2 separate regions of the Homo sapiens genome follow, and region 2 is linked to region 1. The links come from fine-mapping of genetic effects on gene expression. A gene starts in region 1. The other region holds a variant in brackets. All regions are shown on one strand. Distances are from middle to middle.

Region 1 (2,836 bases):
ATATATATATACACACATATATGTATATTTTACAGTTGGAATATATACACATATATGTATATATACACATATACATATATGTATGTATGTATGTGTATATATGTATGTATGTGTATATATGTATGTATGTGTGTATATGTATACGTATATACATATATGTGTGTATATGTATACGTATATACATATATGTGTGTATATGTATACGTATATACAATGTATGTATATATGTATACATATACATACATATATACATGCATGTATGTATATGTGTATATATACATACATATACACATACATACACATATATGTGTATATGTATACACATACATACACATATATGTGTATATGTATACACATACATACACATATATGTGTATATGTATACACATACATACACATATATGTGTATATGTATACACATACATACACATATATGTGTATATGTATACACATACATACACATATATGTGTATATGTATACACATACATACACATATATGTGTATATGTATACACATACATACACATATATGTGTATATGTATACACATATACATATGTGTATACGTATACACGTATATATGTATACACACATACATACGTATAGATGTATACACACACATACATACGTATAGATGTATACACACATACATACGTATATATGTATACACACACATACGTATATATGTATACACACATACATACGTATATATGTATACACACACATATACGTATATATGTATATAGACACATATACGTATATATGTATATATACACACATATATACGTATATATGTATATATACACACATATATACGTATATATGTATATATACACACATATATACATATATATAATGTATATACACACACATATATACATATATAATATGTATATATACACACACATATATGTATGTATATTTTACAGGCTTAATTAACTTTCTTTTTCTTGTATAAAAACCCTATGTTGTAGCTACAGCTGGAGCCTGGGTCCTCTGCACGGAGACTCTGGTGTGGGTCTTGGCGAGGTGGTCAGTGAATTCTTGATAGGGACACTTGGTGAATACAGCCGTCCTCCAGAGGTCAGGGGTCAGGTAGCTGTAGGTCTTAGAGATGGCATCAAAGGTGGCCTTGGCGAAGTTGCTCAGAGTGGCAGTGCAGCCCCTGGCTGAGGTGTAGCAGTCATCGATACCAGCCATCATGAGCAACTTCTTGGGCACAGGCGCCGAGACGATACCGGTGCCTCTGGGCACGCGGATGAGGCGCACGAGCACGGAGCCGCAGCAGCCCGTCACCTTGCAACGGATGGTGTAGGGCTTGCCGATCTTGTTCCCCTAGTAACCTCTGCGCATGGGGACAATGGAGAGCTAGGCCAGGATGATGGCCCTGTGGATGGCAGTGGCCACCTCCTTGGAGCACTTAACACCCAGACCGACGTGACCGTTGTAGCCCGCAATGGCCACAAACGCCTTGAACCTGGTTCGCTGGCCGGCTCCGGTCTGCTTCTGCACCGGCATAATCTTCAAAACCTAGGCCTCGAGAGAGGCCCCCCAGGAAAAAATCAATGATCTCAGATTCCGTGATGGGCAGGGAGAAGAGACAGATCTCCTCCAGGGAAGTGATCTTCATGTGCTTGACCAGGCAGCCCAGCTTGCTGACGGGCATCCACTCCTTATCCTTGGCCTTGCCTCCGCGAGCTCCGTGGCTTCGGCCCCAGCCTGGTCCACGGCAGTGACCCCGGCCTCGGATGCCACTGCCGAAACCTCCACGGAAGCCACCATGGTTCCCCATCCCAGGGCCCCGGGGCCTCCGGGACTCCCCCCGCAACCCAATGCCGGCTGCGCCGGCGTCATCCGCCATTTGGTGTTTTCTCGGAGAAGAAGCTACATGTGGAATATATTAACGCAACAAATTGTGCGTACTTGCTAGACATTAGGCATGATAGCAAGTGCTAGGGTTACAAAGTATTGCTTTTTGGGGAACCCATGGTTGTTGGGGAGAAACCAGAAGATCAGTCATCACAGTGCGGCAAGATCAGACTTGTGGTTTGTTCAGGTTCTGGGAGCCGTCACTGCAGTGAGAATGGGTGAGTTGGGGCAGGCTGTGGTGTCTGGGAAATTTTAAAATAGAAGTGATACTTGAGCAAGAAGTTGAAGGATGAATATGGATTTATAGAATAAGCAGGGTGTAGAGACATGTGTGCATGTGTGTGTGTATTTCATAAAGAAAGACATGCATGTGCAAAGGCCTGGAGGCTGTTGATGTCAGCAGAATGTTCTGAGGAATGAGTAAGATGAAACAGATGAAACACTTAAAGGCATTTTTTCTCCATTAGTCAAGTCTAGGAGAGGCATTCAATGTCTAATGTCTAACTAGGGTTAGGATTTGAAGAATCTTTCTAAGATGTCTGGTCTTTTTTTTTTTTTCTTTTAGAGATGGGGTTTCACTGTGTTGCCTAAGCAGTGGCTATTCATAGGCACAGTTACAGCACACTGCAGTCTTGAACTCCTGGACTCAAACTATCCTCCTGCCTTGGCCTCCAAAGTAGCTAGGGCTACAGGCACATGTGACTGTGCCTGAGTAAGACGTCCCCTCTCAAAAGTCAGCAAATAAAAGGCAGCTTAGAGAAAGCCATGGTTCCTACCTGATCACCCTCCCAACCATCCTATGAGGATTTTACAGATGAGGACCCTGACGTTCAGTGGGTTTAAGTAATTTCCCTAAAGTCTCTGCTAGGAAGAAGGAGAACTGGGCTTTCCATTGGAGTCTGCCTCACTCCAAAGCCCACGACAAATTGTGAACATAAGTTCCTCTTTATCTGATGACTTGGGACTTT
Region 2 (2,836 bases), 41 kb after region 1:
ATAAGTTCCTTTCTAGATCTTATGTGATTGCCGAGGAGAGAAATCTAGCACATGAAGTCTATAGAAAAGAATTAATTTCCAAAGTGACTGCTCTGGGAGCTGTGGCGAGGGTGTGTTTTGCTGGTGGAGTGTGGCAGGGATACTTTGTTTGGAAGGGCTGTGTTTGTTGTCTGCTTCCTTTCCATGAGAAATGATCACTGATTCACTCGCCAAAGCTCATGGAGTGATTTTGCTGACGTGTCACCTTTTCTTTTATGCCATTCTCCCTCTTTCTGACTTCTTCCCCTCAGACGGCCCCATCTCCAGGTTGCCCTACTTCATTTCCAGCCTCATTATCCATACTAGCTTTCTCAAGATAGTAGTCTCAGGATTAGGCCTACCTGTTTGGCCGTATGGTTACAAGTGCTCTGCTTAGAAAAGCCTTAGGTAAATATATCATGCTAAAGGTTATTGACTGACACCAGTCAGCTATGCCTGGCTCTGGAGTATTACCATTTTCACAAAGCACTATGAGTGGTTTAACCTCAGGGAATATTCTTTTTGTTTGAGGTAGCTGTATTGTTTTTGGTCCTGAAACCTGGACACTCATGGGCTAGTTTCAGCTTTGCCAGGTTAGACCACATCTCTAAAGTGTGTACCTCATTTTGAGACTGAATAAATATATGTTCGATAAAGAAGAAGCAGACTAGACAAAGAAAAGAGAATGTAGCATTGCTTGAATTACCTGATTTCAGAACCTTAAATAAATTTTGTTTTCAAAGAACAACTTGTGAAACTATTATTTCAGAAATCCTGCTTTGGGAAGTCCTAGACTAGGCTGTTTGTTCTTGGTTGAGGTGCTTAATTTCTCTGGGCTTTATTTCTGTCATCTACATATTGAGGGAAATGAAGTAGATAATTTCCAAGTGTCTTTAGGACTTCCAAATTCCTTCATAATGGAAAGGTTTCAGGCATCACCCAGCAAACCAGTAGAGGCTGGAGTGCAATGGCACGATCTTGGCTCACTGCAACCTCTGCCTCCCAGGTTCAAGCTATTCTTCTTGCTCAGCCTCCCAAGTAGCTGGGATTACAGGCCCCCACCACCATGCCCAGCTAATTTTTTTTGGTATTTTTAGTAGAGTGCAGTGGTGTTATCTTGACTCACTGCAACCTCTGCCTCCCAGGTTCAAGTGATTCTCCTGCCTCAGCCCCCCGAGTAGCTGGGATTACAGATGTGCGCCACCACACCCAGCTAATTTTTGTATTTTTAGTAGGGACAGGGTTTCACCATGTTGGCCAGGCTGATCTCAAATTCCTGACCTCGTGATCTACCCGCCTCGGCCTCCCAAAGTGCTGGGATTACAGGCGTGAGCCACTATGCCCGGCCGCCTTTCTACTCCTTCTAATCACACCATATAGTCCCACCTATCATGTGGCTGCAAAAAGGACAATCTCTCTACCCAGTGAGCGGCTCATGCAGCTTCAGATGCAGCATGGTCGCCCTTCGTGTGTGTGGCTGTTTTATTAGCCTGCCCCTGCCCCTTGGATAGCTGGTGTGCCCATCCTTCCAGGAGGACAGGTGAAGCATCAAGTGAGCACTTGGAGAGG[C/A]CCCTCCTGTCTCATACAATCGCGCTAGCTGACTCTGCTCTCAGGCAGGCTCCTATTTTTAGCTGTATCTGATGGAGGCACTGTCTTCCCAGCTTAATGATCCCTCTCAGGTGCCAGTGTGCCTCCAAACAGCTCTCTGGTGATCCAAAGGACAGGTGGGCACAGGCCCTGATATCATACAAAGAAGAGGCTGGGTGATATAGGGCAAAGTGAACACAATTGAGAAGCTGAGGCAGTATGACATCGTGCCCTCTCAAAGCCCTGATTTTCTTTCTGTAAAACAAGACAGGACGCTCTCCAAAGGCTTTCCCAGTTTTAAAGTTCCATCAAACTTCAGTTGTGAAGGGAGAGAACAGATGATTGAAGCGTCAAAGCCCAAGCAACTAAGACAGAGTCAAGCGATTACAAAGCAGACCATGAATGTTAGCTAGTAAATAGTCCACTCAGCTGTCTGGGTACAAGTGCTAAGGGATATTTAATTTTGGCATGCTTTTATTTTCTCAGGAGAAAAATAGCAGAAGGAAGTGCACATGCCATTTTATTCCATTGAAACTGCCAATGTGCTCAACTTAGGACTTACATGGGGTTAGCAACGTAGGGGCACACAAGTCAGTACTTTGTTAAACTGCTCCCCAGGCAGGGAATGTTGTGGGTTCAGGTCTAAAGAATGTAACAGTCTCAAGGACTTTGGTGTAGGAGCCACTTATGGTATCCAGTTCACTCCAGACTTTTGACACTGCCTGGGCCCTCTTCAGCAAACTCATCTCTCAGCAGGTGTGGGGCTTGGGGACAAAAAGTTCAGCCTGAAAGTGGAAAAAGAGTTCCAAAACATGCCGGGAAGGCTGAGGCCTAAGGGCTGAATATGTGTGTATCTGTCTATTCATGAGCCTTGGTTCTGTTTGCTGTGCCAGCTGGTAGAAACTATTTTTGTCTTTTCCCTTCAGGCTGCCGGAGTCTCCACTAGGGAGATTGGACTCTAACAGAGTAAAGGCCAGAGGGCCAGAGGAAATCACTCCCATTTGTTGCATTCCCCAGGGATATCTTTGATTTCCAGGCTTCATCCGCATTCTATACTTCTGCAGGATTCACTGTCCAGAGGAATCCAAGGGGAAGCCTGTAAATTGTATACCCTTTTTAGGGGCAGAATTAGATCATGTTTTCAGCTTATAGCAAATCAATAAACTGTTGCCCATGGCTAAGATTATGTGTAGCAGTCCTTATGCCTGAAACTTGATTTGAGACTGCCAAT

Alleles and levels. Alleles are on the strand shown, and positions count from the first base shown. SD is a standard deviation of normalised expression in the study named.
As copies of C replace A in region 2, the expression in testis of the gene that starts at base 1,286 in region 1 goes down (small effect, 0.14 SD a copy in GTEx).

Evidence for each region. PIP is the estimated chance that this variant, and not a neighbour inherited with it, causes the effect.
Region 2: its variant is the best candidate, but not a certain one, in a credible set for the expression of LRRC52-AS1 in testis (GTEx, PIP 0.67).

The regions. Positions count from the first base shown.
Region 1 is chr1:165,580,605-165,583,440 of GRCh38, reverse strand. It overlaps LRRC52-AS1 (LRRC52 antisense RNA 1), which reads left to right and starts at 1,286. Exons shown (of 7, transcript NR_026744.2): 1 at 1,286-2,086. It also overlaps the pseudogene RPS2P10.
Region 2 is chr1:165,539,827-165,542,662 of GRCh38, reverse strand. The region is part of intron 3 of LRRC52-AS1 (LRRC52 antisense RNA 1); the gene reads left to right. Among named protein-coding and RNA genes, the nearest start is that of LRRC52, 2.8 kb to the left of the region's middle. The variant C/A (reference allele first, on the strand shown) is at 1,588.